Regions from separate parts of the Homo sapiens genome. Here region 1 is linked to region 2. The links come from fine-mapping of genetic effects on gene expression. A gene starts in region 2. The other region holds a variant in brackets. All regions are shown on one strand. Distances are from middle to middle. Region 1 holds the start of ICMT (isoprenylcysteine carboxyl methyltransferase). Region 2 holds the start of RNF207 (ring finger protein 207).

Evidence for each region. PIP is the estimated chance that this variant, and not a neighbour inherited with it, causes the effect.
Region 1: its variant is fine-mapped to the expression of RNF207 in sigmoid colon (GTEx, PIP 0.96). The same link has a PIP of 0.9 or more in esophagus mucosa.

What each region holds. Positions count from the first base shown.
Region 1 is chr1:6,230,083-6,238,399 of GRCh38, reverse strand. ICMT (isoprenylcysteine carboxyl methyltransferase) reads left to right here and starts at 2,436. Exons shown (of 5, transcript NM_012405.4): 1 at 2,436-2,683; 2 at 3,426-3,514; 3 at 4,757-4,926; 4 at 6,281-6,498. The coding sequence starts at 2,489. It overlaps ICMT-DT (ICMT divergent transcript), which reads right to left and starts at 2,160. Exons shown (of 5, transcript NR_103534.1): 1 at 2,064-2,160; 2 at 1,250-1,434; 3 at 1,055-1,155; 4 at 552-586; 5 at 1-179. RefSeq lists an enhancer at 1,231-2,203 and silencers at 2,168-2,497, 2,708-2,767. The variant C/T (reference allele first, on the strand shown) is at 4,465.
Region 2 is chr1:6,200,891-6,209,207 of GRCh38, reverse strand. It overlaps RNF207 (ring finger protein 207), which reads right to left and starts at 3,089. Exons shown (of 18, transcript NM_207396.3): 1 at 2,906-3,089; 2 at 2,482-2,672; 3 at 1,697-1,829; 4 at 183-327; 5 at 12-93. The coding sequence starts at 2,672. It overlaps RNF207-AS1 (RNF207 antisense RNA 1), which reads left to right and starts at 3,428. Exons shown (of 3, transcript NR_125997.1): 1 at 3,428-3,454; 2 at 3,795-4,002; 3 at 4,226-4,368. RefSeq lists silencers at 91-160, 205-499, 2,647-2,816, 3,765-4,059 and enhancers at 3,017-3,246, 2,894-3,713.

The DNA of each region.
Region 1 (8,317 bases), 29 kb before region 2:
GCTTTACAGAACAAATACCAATCTGTGCCAGAGAAATAAGGATCCCCACTGTACAGGAAATGGAGGTGCATAGAATGGATTTGCCAAGGTCACAAAGCTAGGCCGCAGAGGTGAGGGGTCCGGGATTCTGGCCCAGGCTCTCCATCCAGCTTCCCAGGTACCAGAGCTCCTGCCAGGACCTGCAGGGACAAGAGTGGAGAGGGGCTCAGATGCAGGGCTCACAGACCGCCTGCCTCTCTCGCTGACCCACCACTTGATGCCAGCCTCCCCGAGGGCCTGTCCCCATCCCTTCTCAGCCTTTCTCCCTCCCGCCTCTGTGCCTTTCAAACGCCAAGCCCTCACTCCCTCCTTGATCTCATTTCCAATGGAGGGCAGGCTGTCCATCCCCAAGGGCCCCAAGGCCTAGCTCTGGCGTCTGTTCCTCGCAGCCTCCTCGCCCTGCCGCCCTCCAAGCTGAGGGCCTCCCCTGGGGTCCCTCTTTGCTCCCCATCCTTGCTCTCCTTCTGCCCCCACTGCCACCCCTGCAGAGTTTATTCCAGTTGTTCACTTACTGGCTTTTCTCCTCCAGCGCAGCTCTCTGAGCTACCTGAGGTGAGAGAATTTACTCTTTAAAAAGTAAAGAAAAACTTGATTATAAAAGTAATCTATGGGCCGGGCACGGTGGCTCATGCCTATAATCCCAGCAGTTTGGGAGGCCGAGGCGGGTGGATCACCTGAGGTCAGGAGTTTGAAACCAGCCTGGCCAACATGGTAAAGCCCCGTCTCTACTAAAAATACAAAAAAATTAGCTGGCCGTGGTAGTAGGCTCCTGTAATCCCAGCTACTCAGGAGGCTGAGGCAGGAGAATCACTTGAACCCGGAGGCGGAGGTTGCAGTGAGCCGAGATTGCGCCATTGTACTCCAGCCTGGGCAACAAGAGCAAAACTCCATCTGAAAAAAAAAAAGTATCCTGTGTTCATTGTAGGCAGTATGGAAACTGCAAAAACAGATAAAGACAATAAAAATCACCAAGAGTGCCACTACCTAAAGATAGGCCAGGGGTGGTGGCTCATACCTGTAATTCCAGTGCTTTGTGAGGCTGATTGGAGGATCACTTGGGCCCAGGAGTTCCAGACTGCCGCACTCCAGCCTGGCCAACACAGTGAGACCCTGTGTCTAAAAAAGAAAAAAAGAAAAAAAAAAGGTACATATATAGTCGGCGTTATACCATTTTGGCTGATAGCTTGATCATTTTCCCAGGCTCAGATACCTGCCCTTTTTCCCCAAGTGAAGTCAGGATCACACCGAAAAGCTTTGCCTCCTGCTATTTAAAAACCTAATATAGGCAGGGCGCGGTGGCTCACGTCTGTAATCTCAGCACTTTGGGAGGCCGAAGCGGGCGGATCACGAAGTCAGGAGATGGATCCCGGCTAACACGGTGAAACCCCGTCTCTACTAAAAATACAAAAAAATAAGACGGGCGCAGTGGCGGGCGCCTGTAGTCCCAGCTACTCGGGAGGCTGAGACAGGAGAATGGCGTGAACCCGGGAGGCGGAGCTTGCAGTGAGCCGAGATCGCACCACTGCACTCCAGCCTGGGCGACAGAGCGAGACTCCGTCTCAAAAAAAAAAGAAAACCTAACATATCCTGAGCATTCCCATCACCGTCCAGCCTTGTTCCACAACAGGAATTTAAGCGGGCGGTGGTCCCGTTGCATGGATGCCCAGGTGCCGTTGTCCAGGCCGGTTTCCAGGGAGCCGCAGAGGGAGGGCAGGAGGTCGCCGCACTTGGCCCCGCGCCCCAGGGCGTCTGGTTTTCGGGGACGACGCAGGGCCGGCGAGGGTGCGGCCGTTTCAAAATTTTTTTTTTTGAGATGGAGTGTCACTCTGTCACCCAGGCTGGAGTGCAGTGACACAATCTCGGCTCACTGCAACCTCCGTCTCCCCGGATCAAGCGATTCTCCTGCCTCAGCCTCACCAAGTAGCTGGGGTTAAAGGCGTGCGCCACCACGCCCAGCTAATTTTTGTATTTTTAGTATAGACGGCGTTTCCCCATGTTGCCCAGGTTGGTCTCGAACTCCTGACCTCAAATGATTCGCCAGCCTCGGCCTCCCAAAGTGCTGGGATTACAGGCGTGAGCCACCGCGCTCGGCTCGTTTCAAACTTTACATTGCTTCTTGGGACAGGAACCTCCTGAGTTTGGGACTAAGTTTGGACAGACGCGGGCGGCGACTTCTCCCACCACTTCCCGGCCCCCGCCCGGCACAGAGTCTGGCTCAGAGCCCGGATGTCCCCGAGGGGCGGGGAGGGGCGGGCGGGCGGGGCGCTCCCGCCAAATTCCGGACAGCAACAGGGCGGGCCGGAGTTCTCGCGAGAACTGGCAGGCGGCGCGCAGCTGCGGGCAGCTGCCCTTCCCGGGCCGGCATCGGCGGCACAGTGCGCAGGCGCAGCCGGCGCGTTTCTCCGGGCTACAGCCGGCGCCGCCGCCCGCTAGTCCGCCGCCCGGCGCCATGGCGGGCTGCGCGGCGCGGGCTCCGCCGGGCTCTGAGGCGCGTCTCAGCCTCGCCACCTTCCTGCTGGGCGCCTCGGTGCTCGCGCTGCCGCTGCTCACGCGCGCCGGCCTGCAGGGCCGCACCGGGCTGGCGCTCTACGTGGCCGGGCTCAACGCGCTGCTGCTGCTGCTCTATCGGCCGCCTCGCTACCAGGTGCAGGCCGGCGGGGGCCGGCGGGGGCCGGCGGGGCGGGCGGCGGTCCGCTTGGCGCGGCGCGTGGGCACCTTTCTCCCCGGGCCCGCAGTGGCCTCCCACGCGCGCGCTCTTCATCCGCGAGTTCAGGTCGCAGGAGGGGACCCTCTCTCTCCGGGCTCGGGCGCCCTGCACCCGAGGAGTGGGTTGTTAAATTGCAGCTTGTGCAGCTCAGCAGGTGCGCGTGGGGTGGAGTGAGCGAGCCCGCGAGTGCTTTTATGTAACTTAAGGTGCAGAGACCTACCTGCTGCCCTGTCTCAGGTCAAAGGCCCCGCAGTGACGTGGGTGGGGCTGGGCGCACAGGCCCGGGTGCCCTGACCTCATAAACTAGGCTTAAGCAGTTTTCCTACAGCCCTGAATAGTAATCACGAATAATAATAATAATGACAGCTAAAATGTAGGTAGCAGTTAGTCTTAAGTGTTTTACGTGGGTAATCCTTACTGCAGTCCTAAAAGGTAGGTACTGTTATCCCCTGGCTGTAGATGGGGAAGCAAGCTCAGAGAGGTTAAATAATTTGGGAGGCCACACAGCCAGAGAGCGGTGGGTGCAGAATTTGAACCCAGGTCGCCCACTTCTCCCTTTCAACCTCAGCAAATCGGCTCTATCTGCTTGCCTGTGGGTTGCCTATTCCGGGAAGGTCAGCAGCCCAGATCTGTACTCTGAGGACTGTGAATGACTGAGCTTCTCTTGGGTTCCTTTCAGATAGCCATCCGAGCTTGTTTCCTGGGGTTTGTGTTCGGCTGCGGCACGCTGCTAAGTTTTAGCCAGTCTTCTTGGAGTCACTTTGGCTGGTAAGAATTCCTTCGGAAATACTGGTTTTCAGGCGAGGGTGGACAGATCAGAGGGTCTGTAGCGGCATTTCCTCATCCCTGTCTCATCTGTGACCGGCAGAAGGCTGTTCAGGGTTCTCTGGAAACGAAGTCTCCTGGCTTCCCCCTAGTTGCTCACATTTCAGCCCTTGTGATTTCGTGCCTGTGGGTTGATTGTGAATCAGGCAGAAACAGATCTCCCTGGCACCCCCAAAGGTGCTGTCATCCGCAGCTGTGGTGACAGCATTCCGTAACTTGAGCAGCCCTTCCCGGAAGGGGTGCAGGTCCTCGGTGGCGGGCAGGGGCAGGGCTCTGGCTTGTCTTCATGGGCCTTTTTCATCTCTAATTTCTATTAGGTCACATCTAGTGCATCCCCACAGCCACTGTAGGATTTTTCCCTACACTATGATTTCAGTCCCTTGAGCCTTCTAGTCTGACCTGGATATGAACCAGTGGCTTCAAGGTAAAAAGTTTTATCTCCTCTTATCAATATTTTGAGCCATCTAATCCTTCTTTGCCGGAATTATTTCAGTTTTGTTAAATTTTGTATCCGACATACATCACTCCTTTATGTTGTTATCTCCCTCTTTCATGTTTTATTGTGTGTAGTGTCATTTTTAACGGACAGAAGGGCCCATAATGCCTCTGTGACCTATGGGTTTGTTTTGCCTGTGACATTCAAAAACAGTCCCTTGCCGGGCGCGGTGGCTCACGCCTGTAATCCCAGCACTTTAGGAGGCCGAGGTGGGCAGATCACGAGGTCAGGAGTTCAAGACCAGCCTGGCCAAGCCAGGAGTTCGAGACCAGCCTTGCCAACATAGCGAAACCCTGTCTCTACTAAAAATACAAAAATGAACTGGGCGTGGTGGTGGGCACCTGTAGTCTGAGCTACTTGAGAGGCTGAGGCAGGAGAATCGCTTGAACCTGGGAGG[C/T]GGAGGTTGCAGTGAGCTGAGATCACGCAGTTGCATTCCAGCCTGGGCGACACAGCGAGACTCTGTCTCAAACAAAACAAAACAAAACACCAGAAACAAAAACAGCCCCTTAAAAACTCCACTTTTTGCAAACCTGAGGTAGTAGATGCTGCAGATGGGTACCTGTGTCCACTCTCAGACAGGTGAGAACAGGGCCTCATAGACTTAGGGACAGCTCAGGAGACCCAGATGTGCACTTATGGTTAACTTGGTTCTCTTGTCCCAACTTAACTCTCTTTTTGTCTTTAAATAGGTACATGTGCTCCCTGTCATTGTTCCACTATTCTGAATACTTGGTGACAGCAGTCAATAATCCCAAAAGTCTGTCCTTGGATTCCTTTCTCCTGAATCACAGCCTGGAGTATACAGTAGCTGCTCTTTCTTCTTGGTTAGAGTTCACACTTGAAAATATCTTTTGGCCAGGTTCGTGTGCCTTATGTCCCCCTCTGGAGGGGAAAAGGGTGGCTCCCATTCAGGCTGAGGACAGTGACATTGATTCACCTTTCAGGTCTAATCTCCCCCAAGCGATTTTCCGCAGACCTCTATCCTCACTAAGCTATTTATAAAGGATGAGCTCCGCTCATGAATTCTGCCTCTGGATATTGACTCGAGGACGTGCTGACCTTTTGCTTTAAAGTTTGCATCACATAGTGCACCATCTAATTTGAAGCCCCAACCTTGAGTAGTTGTGATTCTAATTTTATAATCAGATGATATTTAGACGTTTCATGTAAGAGTTTACTGGCCGGGCACGGTGGCGAACGCCTGTAATCCCAGCACTTTGGGAGGTCGAGGCGGGTGGATCACAAGGTCAGGAGTTCGAGACCAGCCTGGCCAATATGGTGAAACCCCGTCTCTACTAAAAATACAAAAAAGCCAGGCGTAGTGGCACATGCCTGTAATCCCAGCTACTCGGGAGGCTGAGGCAGGAGAACTGCTTGAATCCGGGAGGCGGAGGTTGCAGTGAGCCGTGATCGCGCCACTGCACTCCAGCCTGGGTGACAGAGCGAGACTCCCATCTCAAAAAAAAAAAAAGAGTTTACTAACAAGGTCGGGTGCAGTGGCTCACGCCTTTAATCCCAGCACTTTGGGAGGCCGAGGTGGGTGGATCACATGAGGTCAGGAGTTTGAAACCAGCCTGACCAGCATGGTAAAACCCCGTCTCTACGAAAAATACAAAATTAGCCGGGCCTGGTAGTGCATGCCTGTAATTCTAGCTACTTGGGAGGCTGAGGCAGGAGAATTGCTTGAACCCAGGAGATGGAGGTTGCAGTGAGCTGAGATTGTGCCATTGCACTCCAGCCTGGGCAATGAGAGTGAAACTCCGTCTCAAAAAATAAAAGCCTCCGTATGTGGAATGCACTCTGAAATTGAATGTCTCACAGCCAATGAAATGAAATACATGTGGCTCCTGGGATTCAGGGTGGAAACCTTGGACCCTTTTTTGCTTCTCTTAGCTATACTTGTCCCCAGATGAAGGACTGAGCATGTGGCCGGGGGTCGTGAACCAGAGAGCCCATCAGCTGTAGCAGGAGAGCATCTCTTTACCATGATGCTTTCATTGTGCTTATTGGTGTTTTAAAGTAAATTGATGAACAGCATAACTTAGGGGAATGTGTTTTCTTATGAAATTTTAATGTGATGACAAATGCTGATTGCCCAGCAGCACATTTTCTGTTTCTGTCTTCGGGAAAATAGGTTAATTTTAAGCAGTGCGAAGGGGAGCTCAGGCCAGTGTTTTCACTCCCCGTGTGTCGTTGATGTCTCTCTCCCACAGAACTGAAGCAGATTACCTGGCTCAGTGTCACAGGGCTGCTGATGGTGGTCTTCGGAGAATGTCTGAGGAAGGCGGCCATGTTTACAGCTGGCTCCAATTTCAACCACGTGGTACAGAATGAAAAATCAGATACACATACTCTGGTGACCAGTGGAGTGTACGCTTGGTTTCGGCATCCTTCTTACGTCGGGTGGTTTTACTGGAGTATTGGAACTCAGGTATAATATTAAATATGACACTGCTTTTCTTTTTTTTTTTTTTAAGTAACATTTTAAACGTGATATTCACGTAGCATAAAAGTCACCATTTCAAAATATACAATTAGTGGTTTTCAGTGTATTCATGAGGTTGTTGGTCTCCTTTAAATAATAGGTACATGTTCTTCTTGGCGCGTTTCAAGTGATAATTTAATAAAAGTCAAGAGAACTAATGTAGTCCTTAATGCTTTTCACTATGTGCCCAGAACCTGGGTGCGTAAGTCCTTGGTGATTCTTGGTGCTGTTAGCTACCTGCTGTATCCCTTCATCCTGTTTCTGCCTCTGTTTGTTTGTTTTCTTTTTTCTTTTTTTTTTTTTGGTAGAGACAGGGTCTTACTGTGTTGCCTGGGCAGGTCTCAAACTCTTGGCCTTAAGTGATCCTCCCACCTCAGCCTCGCAAAGTGCTAGCATTATAGGCATGAGCCATTGTGCCTCTCCCTTTCTCTGCCCCTTCAACCTATTAATAGATCTGAAGCACCCCAGAGGGGGTGAGGACAGAGATGGGGCTTAGGGAAGGGAGTGCCCTCTGTCACTCATGTGGCAGCTTGGCTAGTTTTCATCAGAAATAGGTATTAATGGGGCCGAGGCCATGTGTTAGTGAGCTGTGTGAGCCATGGAGGTTTGTTCTGTCTCAGGCTGAAGAAAAGGCCTTGTTTCGTTTCTTTTCTTTTCTTTCTTTCTTTTTTTTTTTTGAGACCTAGTCTTGCTCTGTTGACCAGGCCAGAGTGCAGTGGTGCGATCTTGGTTCACTGCAACCTCTGCCTCCCAAGTAGCTGGAACTGTAGGCACGAACCACCATGCCTGACTACTTTTCGTATTTTTTTTGTAGAGACAGGGTTTCTCGAGTTGCCCAGAGCCATCTTGAACTACTGAGCTCAAGCAGTCTGCCTTCCTGGGCCTCTCAAAGTGCTGGGATTACAGGCTTGAGCTACAGTGCCTGGCCTTTTTTTTTTTTTTTTCCTTTTTGAGATGGAGTCTCACTCTGTTGCCCTGTTGCCCAGGCTGGAGTGCAGTGGCATGATCTCAGGTCACTGCAACCTCTGCCTCCCAGGTTCAAGCGATTCTCTTGCTTCAGCCTCCTGAGTAGCTGGGACTACAGGCGCCCGCCACCACACCCGGCTAATTGTTTGTATTTTTAGTAGAGATGAGGTTTGACTGTGTTAGCCAGGATGGTCTTGATCTCCTGACCTCATGATCTGCCCGCCTCGGCCTCCCAAAGTGCTGGGATTATAGGCATGAGCCACCGTGCCCAGCTTTTTTTTTTTTTTTTTTTTTTAAAGACAGGATCTTGCTGTGTTGCCCAGCCTGGAGTGCAGTGTTCTGATCATGGCTCACTGCAGCCTTGACCTCCTGAGCTCAAGTGATCCTCCTACCTCAGCCTCCCAAGTAGCTGGAATACATTACAGGTGTTGCCACCACGTCCGGCTAATTTTTAAATTTTTTGTAGAGGTGGTTCTCCTGGACGGTTGCCTGTAATCCCAGCACTTTGAGAGGCTGAAGTGGGTGGGTCACTTGACATCAGGAGTTTGAGACAAGCCTAGCCAACATGGCAAAACCCCATCTCTATTAAAAATACAAAAATTAGTTGGGCCTGGTGGCACATGCCTATAGTCTCAGCTACTCGGGAGGCTGAGACCTGAGAACCGCTTGAACCTGGGAGGTGGAGGTTGCAGTGAGCTGAGATTGTGCCACTGCACTCCAGCCTGGGTGATGGAGTGAGACTCTGTCTCAAAAAAAAAAGAGATGGTTCCTCCTTTGTTGCCCATGCTGGTCTTGAACT
Region 2 (8,317 bases):
CCTGTACGCACTTCTGCATGTCGCGGAAGCAGCGGATGCACAACAGCAACTTCTTGTCGGTGGAGAACAAGAGGTAGGGCTCTGCGTGCAGCGCTGCGGGGGCGGCGGGCGGTGGTGAGGGCTCCGGTCAGTGCCCGCCCCGCCCCCACCCCCAAGTCCCCGGCCCCGCAAGCCTCACTCACTGCACTTCTGGGGCACGTCGCGGCTTCGCTGACCCAGGGCCACGATGTCGTGGCGCGCGAACATGCGTGCTCGGTGCGTCTCGTCGCGGCAGCGCGCGCATAGGGGCTGTCCGCACGTGTTGCAGAAGTACGTGGTCTCCACGTCCTGCGGGCCGAGCGCGGGCTCAGGAGCGCCAGAGCCCGACCGCGGCCAGCGCGGGAACCGCAGCCGCCGCGTGTCACTGCGCGTGTTTGTCCCAGCCGTGGCCGGGTGCGCAGCTAAACGCAGCCCTTTCCTGTAATCCAGGCACTTGGCGCTCTGATATACCCACTTTACAGAGGAGGGCACTGCGGCTCAGAGGCTGGGTAAGTAGGTCCGTGGAGGGGGGTGGGGGACGCGGGGAGAGGGCAGAAACTGCCTTTATAAAACATTTTACCGAGGCCGGGCGCGGTGGCTCACGCCTGTAATCCCAACAATTTGGGAGGCCGAGGCGGGCGGATCACCTGAGGTCAGGAGCTGGCCAACATGGCGAAACCCTGTCTCTAATAAAAATACAAAAATTAGCTGGGCATGGTGGCGGGCGCCTGGAGTCCCAGCTCCTCGGGAGGCCGAGGCAGAAGAATCACTTGAACTCGGGAGGCAGAGGTTGCTGTGAGTCAAGTTGGCGCCACTGCACTCCAGCCTGGGCGATAAAGCAAGAATCCGTCTCAAAAAAAAAAATTTTTTTTTTTTTACCTGCAACAAAAGGGTGTGAGGGCCTCTCACGGCCCCCTTGGCACACTCAATAGTGGCCGAAAGGTGGTGTACACCCTGGCCATCTGGAGTCACACTTGGGGGCGGGGGGAGGGGAAGAGCAGTGAGGGCTTTAAGGTTCTCCTCCCCAAGCCAGACCCAGGGCTGGGATTCCAGGGCTTGGCCTGCAGCCCTGGTATGGACGCATGCAATGATGGACATAACAGGCCCTACCTGCAGTCCCTACCTCCTGCTAATCCTCTCTGTACGTCTGGGTCACACATTGCTCAGCACTTGTCCAGAACGCTGGAGCTTTTGCCCCAGTCGGGCCGTCCTCCTGGGATTCCCGATACATTTTCTGGCCTCCGCAGGCCAGAGTCCCCTGTGCCTTTTACAGCCCAGAGGGAACAGCATGCTGTCCCCACCTCCCCTGGGCTGTAGCTGCTTCTATGCCACTTGGGTAGCAGAGGCCCTTCAGGGTCGGCCCAGGCCTGCAAACTGGACTGCCCCTCCTGTGCAGGTCCACAACTCCACCCTGAATTGGGGACCAGTGAGCTCTCCCCAGATCGAATGGCCTTAGCCTCTGCCACTGTCTGGACACTGGCTCAAGTCCCTTGTTCTGGACCTCAGTCTCCCCACCGGTATAATGGGGTTCACATTTGGGGCCAAGGTGCCCTAGGGAGGTGCTGGAGAATCCACTGCCAGGTCGTCCTCTGAAGACATGCTGAGTGCATGTGCAAGCATTGGGGACTGTGCAACCGGGTACCCTCTGCTCCTCACCCACCCGCCCTGCCGCCCCTGCCTGCTCGCTGCACTCCAGGTCACAGTTGGCACAGCGCACCGCCTCCACGCCATCCCCTGAGCTGTCCACCAGGAACTGCAGCAGCCGGTCCACCGGCGGGAGCCCGCTGGGACCCTTCAGCACCGTCTGGTGTCTGCAGAGAAGCCCAGGCCCCGAGATTCTGATACCCCTTCCCCAGGGCTCCCCACCCCCACCCCTCACATTCCAGGCTGGAGCTAAAAATAGCTGTGTTGGGAGGTGGGGTGCACCACAGCTCTGGGGTCTGCTATAAATATCACAGCCAGCACTCACCCTGCCCTGGTCCCTACCCTTGCCCAGTCCTGGGCACTCCTGCAGACAGTGGGGTTGGTCCCCTAGTATCAAAAGCAGAAGCTGCTCCTCGACATCTTCTCACGGCATTGGGCAAATCAGAGCCACTCCTGGGTTCCTTGAGCCCACATAACTGAAACTGTGGTTTTGTGGACCTAAGACTTCTAGGACCCCCAAGCGAGTAACCGGGAGCGTCCTGACCAGTGCTGGAGCCCCGCCCTTACCCTCTGACTTTTGATGGGAGGTCTTGGGCCAGTAACTGCAATCTCCAGGCTTCAGTTAAGCTGATCTATAAAATGGACCGAAGCCTGCAACTTCTGGCGGGGAGAGCTAAGGACCGGGTGCAGTATCTCCCAGTCGTTCTGCCTGAAGTTGGAGCCTTACTCTCCTGGCACCTGGGTCCCAGCTCGGGCAGAGCCAACCTTGGGCCCGGGGGATGGGGTCTGGGGGGTTTTGGGGAACTTTGGGACACTTACTGGCACAGCGGGCAGGTGAGGCGGCCGTCGGTCGCGCGGCCACGCAGGCAGCCGGCACAGAAGTCGTGGAAACAGTCCAGAAGACACGGGCGCTCGTACTGCACGTGGCACAGCGGGCACACCAGCGGGTGGATGCTCGGGGCATCCAGGGAGCTCGGGCCCTCCAGGGGCCCGAAGATAGCTCCCGACATCTGCAGCGACAGCGCAAGCGGGCGGCTGGGGCACGCACGGAGCCCCGCTTGAGCTCCCGCGGCCCCTCTGCCCGGGCGCCCGCGCCCTCCCTATCGCGCCTGGACCCGACTGGGCGTCCAGAGGTCATGGAGTGGGGAGCCGCTAGGGCCCAGGTTAGGGCTGGGGCCTGGAGCTCCCCGGCGCAGGGAGAACAGGCAGTGAGGACTGGCGAGGGGCGGGGCCTTGTACCTACCCGCTGGGCCGCTTTGCTGGGAGCTACCGGTCCTCCGAGCCTCTCTCCCGCCGTCCAGCGCTCTTAGTGCGGCTCCGGGCCGCGCTCTGAGACACCGCGCGGTCGCTCTGCCGAGGAGTAGCCGGCCCTGGAAGTTCAGGCCCGCACCGGGCGATGGTTCCCACTCTGCGCGGGGCCTCCCTCTGCCGTGGCCTCTCCTACCTCTCCTCACTCCCACCCTCGGAATTCCCCGCCGGGTGTCCTCTGGGTGACCCGCAGGCGACGCCTCTTCCGGCATCCACCTTCCCCAGGGTGGCTGCTGCCTTGAGGCGCGGCGGGGCCGAACCGACCTCCGCGCTCGCCATCTGCTTTGCGCACTGGTTCCGGCCCGGCCACTCCACCTCCAGCCCGCGGGGAGGAGAGGCCAGGACGCCAAGGCTCCAGGGACGGTGCCAGGCAAGGGTGCAAGGATCGGACTGGCCCCTGCCCGGCATGACAGAGTCCGGAGCCCCAAGACCAGAGCGCCGCGCAGAGCGGGGCCGGAGGACCTTGGCTGCGGGGTCTTCAAGGGTAGGCCGGGCGCGGTGGCTCACGCCTGTAATCTCGGCACTCTGGGAGGCCGAGGCGGGCAGATAGCTTGAGGTCAGGAGTTCGAGACCAGCCTGGCCAACATGGCGAAACCCTGTCTCTACTAAAAATGCAAAAATTAGCCAGGCATGGTGGCGCCCTTCGGGAGGCTGAGGCAGAACTGCTTGAACCCGGGAGGCGGAGGTTGCAGTGAGCCGAGATCGCGCCACTGCACTCCAGCCTGGGCTACAGAGCCAGACTGTCTTAAAAAAAAAAAAGAGTCCAAACCCCACCCCCTACCCCCGCTAATCCCCACTCTTCCATCCCATTTGGGTCTGAACAGGTCATCGCCGCCTCATTTCCTCGGCGGCCAATTGGGGGCGCCAGAGAGCAGCGGACGCCCCTCCACCGACTTTCCAGCGCTTGGGAGGCGGAGTGAGACGCCCTGTAATCCCAGCCCTGCCTTTCGCTGGTTGTGAGCTCTTGGCCATGTTACTGACCTCTCAGAGCCTCAGCGCTGGGTTAAAATAGAACTGGTGTCCTGATAATGGGTGAGGCCCCAGTGGAATAACGCACGTGAAATACACATACTGGGCGTCCACTTAATTAAGGCCCTATCCTCATTGCCTGCCAAGTTCCCAAAAGAGGGATGGGTTTGGGTGGGAGGTTGAGAGGGGAGGTTCCCGGCCTTTCCAGCAGTGCCCCCTCTGCCGTCTGGGCCTGGCAGATGCGTGTTGATCCCAGCGTTTTCTCCAGCGTGCGCTCGCTTGCTAGGTCGACGTGATCAGTGAGCTTTCTCCGCCCGTGTTCTCCTGAGTGTCCTGAGAGCAGCCCGTTTCTGCCCCTCTTGCGATTACAAAGTCAAGCCCAGAGCCTGACCCACAGTAGTGCTCAATAAAGGCTTAGAAAAAGCTCGGAGATATTTGAGCTGTTTTCGTTTTGTTTTGTTTAAGACAGGATCTCACTCTGTCGCCGCGTGATCATATCTAACTGCAGCCTTGGCTTCCTTCCACCTCAGCCTCCCAAGTAGCTGGGACTACAACCACGCACCACCATGCCCGGCTAATTTTTTGTATTTTTAGTAGAGACGGGGTTTCACCATGTTGACCAGGCTGGTCTCGAACTCCTGACCTCAGGTGATCCACCCACCTTGGCCTCCCAAAGTGCTGGGATTACAGGTGTGAGCCACTGAACCCAGCCTTTTTTTTTTTTTTTTTTTTGTATTTTTAGTAGAAAAATAAAAAGTACAATGTGCTGCACACATCGGGGGTTTTGCTGTGTTACCCAGGCTGGTCTCCAACTCCTGGGCTCAAGCATTCTGCCTGCCTTGGCCTTCCAAAGTTGCTGGGATTACAGACGTGAGCCGCCTTGCCTGGCCTTGAGCTGGGTTTTGAAGGATGCGTAGGAGTAGGAGTTTGCTAGGAGAAGGAAGTGAATTCTAGAGAGAAACTAGCTGTTCTTTTGAGGACTGTCCCTAGCCCTGGTTCTTTTTTTTTTTTTTGAGACTGAGTCTCATTCTGTCACCCAGGCTGGAGTGCAGTGGCGCAATCTCGGCTCACTGCAAGCTCCGCCTCCTGGGTTCACGCCATTCTCCTGCCTCAGCCTCCCGAGTAGCTGGGACTACAGGTGCCCGCCACCACGGCCGGCTAATTTTTTGTATTTTTAGTAGAGACAGGGTTTCACCATTCACAGGATGGTCTCGATCTCCTGACCTCGTGATCCGCCCCACCTTGGCCTCCCAAAGTGCTGGGATTACAGGCGTGAGCCACCATGCCCGGTCCCTAGCCCTGGTTCTATTTGTGGACCAAATCATAATGACAGTAGTAGCAATGGCTAATGTTTATGTGTTTATAGGCCAACATTCTTTTATGGGCCAAGATTCTTTTTTTTTTTTTTTTTTTGAGATGGAGTTTTGCTCTTGTTGCCCAGGCTGGAGTGCAATGGCGCCATCTCAGCTCACCACAACCTCCGCCTCCCGGGTTCAAGCGATTCTCCTGCCTCAGCCTCCCGAGTAGCTGGGATTATAGGCATGTGCCACCGCGCCTGGCTGATTTTGTATTTTTAGTAGAGACGGGGTTTCTCCATGTTGGTCAGGCTGGTCTCGAACTCCCGACCTCAGGTGACCTGCCCGCCTCTGCCTCCCAAAGTGCTGGGATTACAGGCGTGAGCCACCACACCGGGCCTTTTTTTTTTTTTTTTGTACAAGGGGAGGGAGGGTGGGGAGATATGGGCCAATATTTTATTCTAAGCTGTTTAACTTATATTAACTCATTTAATCTGGAGAACACTCTTAAAAAGTAGAAAATATTACCCCAGAAAGTGGTGGAGCTGGTATACAAAACCGCGTAGGTGCTTTGTTAAGGAATGATGCATTAGTTTCCCGGTAGGAGGTGAGTGCTTCATTCATCCATTCATTCATGTCTGCATCTGTTCAACTAGTATTTACAGAGCATCTACCATGGGCACATAGAAGGGAACACACCAGCCAAGGTTAGTCAAGTACACAGATTAACAAATAATGACAGGCTGCATTAACTGCTTGGAAGAAAATCATAAGGATGATAGGCCGGGTGCCGTGGCTCACACCTGTAATCTCAGCACTTTGGGAGGCTGAGGTGGGCGGATCACCTGAAGTCAGGAGTTCGAGACCAACCTGGCCAACATAGTGAAAACCCGTCTCTACTAAAAATACAAAAATTAGCTGGGCACGATGGATCATGCCTGTTATCCCAGCACTTTGGGAGGCCGAGGCGGGTGGATCACGAGGTCAGGAGTTCGAGACCAGCCTGGCCAGCATGGTGAAACCCTGTCTCTACTAAAAGTACAAAAAATTAGCCAGGCATGGTGGCACGCACCTGGAGTCCCAGCTACTTCGGAGGCTGAGGCAGGAAAATTGCTTGAACCTGGCAGGTGGAGGTTGCAGTGAGCCGAGATTGCGCCATTGCACTCCAGCCTGAGTGACAGAGTGAGACCTCTGTCTCAAAAAAAAAAAAAAAAAAAAAAAAAAAGGAAAAAAAGGAAAAATTAGCTGGGTGTAGTGGTGCATGCCTGTAATCCCAGCTACTCTTGCGAGGCTGAGGCAGGAGAATCGAGATGGCGCCACTGCACTCCGGCTTGGGTGACAGAGTGAGATTCCGCCTAAAAAATTAAATAAATAAATAAGGATGATGAGATGGAGGGCAGTTGGGAGGGGCTCGAGCTGAGGACCACACTAGGTAACCATGAGCAGAGAGGGGGAACTGAGCTTGAGACCCCCAGAGGATAAGAAATTAAGAAAAGCCAGGAAGGCTGGGCGCAGTGGCCCACACCCGTAATCCCAGCACTTTGGGAGGCCAGCGTGGGTGAATCTCTTGAGCCCAGGAGTTCAAGACCAGCTTGGGCAACATAGCAAGACTCCCCCCTCTATAAAAAATACTAAAACTTAGCTGGGCATGGTGGCTCGTGCTTGTAGTCCCAGCTACTTGAGAGGCTGAGGTGGAAGGATTGCTTGAGCCAGGAGGTTGAGGCTGCAGTGAGCTGTGACTGCACCTCTGCAGTCCCACCTGGGTGATAGAGTAAGACCCTGTCTCGAAAGAAAAACAAAAATAGAAAAGCTGGGAAAAGTTCCAAGCAGAGGCAAGAGCAAGTGCAAAGCCCCAGAAATGGGAAGACATTTAGAGACTAGCAGATCAATGTGGCTGGAGATGAAGGAGCTCAGGGTGGGGAGTAGGGCTGAACATGGCATGGGAGTGAGGATGGAGGATGGGGGTGAGGCTGGAGAGGTGGGGGCGGGGCAGGGGGTGTGGGGTGAGGGATGAGGGTTTGAGTGTGGGGAGGTGGGGGTGAGGGTGAAGAGGTGAGAATGGGCTCATGAGGGTCAGGGTGATCTACGGGACACTAGTCTAGAGATGCCAAGGATGCCACTGGCTGTACCTGTGGGGAGTCCAGGGAGGGGTAGAGGCTGCACACATTGGCCTGGGGAGTCATATTTAAAGGGAAGAGCATGTGGGTCTTGTCTAAAGATCAAGTGTAGATAAGGACGGGAGGAGGCTGGGTGTGATGGCTCCCGCCTGTAATCCTAGCACTTTGGGAGGCTGAGGCAGGAAGATTGCTTTAGCCCAGGAGTTCTAGATCAGCCTGGGCAACATAGCCATAGTGAGACACCAACTCTCTACAACAGCAAAACAAAACAAAACAAAAAAACATGCAGCTGGGCATGGTGGTGCACACCTGTGGTCCTAGCTACTCAGGAGGCTGAGGTGGGAGGATTGCTGGAGCCTAGGATGTCAAGGCTTCAGTGAGCCGTATTCGCACCACTGCACTCCAGCCTGGGCAACAGAGCGAGAGCCTGTCTCAGAAAAAAAAAAAAAAAAAAGAAAGAAAAAGGAAAGAACAATAAAAGTCAACTGCTGAGAGGGAGGTTTAGGAAGAAGGGGCTGGCATTATGACTGAGGTGTGAAATAGTCTTTTGGGCCAGGTGCAGTGCCTTATGCCTGTAATCCCAGCAATTTGGGAGGCCAAGGTGGGAGGATCACTTGAGCCCAGGAGTTTGAGGCTGCAGTAAGCTATGATCACACCACTGCACTCCAGCCTTGGTGACAGAGCAAGACCCTGTCTCTATTAAAAACAACAAGAAAGGGAAATAGTCCCTTGGGGGAGAGATTTAGGATTGTCAGTAGCCCTGAGGGCTCGCTTAGGGTCCGTTATCAGCCAGGGTCCAGTCAAAAGACAACACATTATAGTTTTTAACTGAGAGAATTTAATATAAAGGATTGTTAACTAGGTATAAAGATGTGTTTAGGTAACTGTCGGGGTATAATACTAACAGTAGCAACTGCAGGAAGTAGCTACCACTGGTAGGTGGTATTATTAAAATGTAGATGCTTG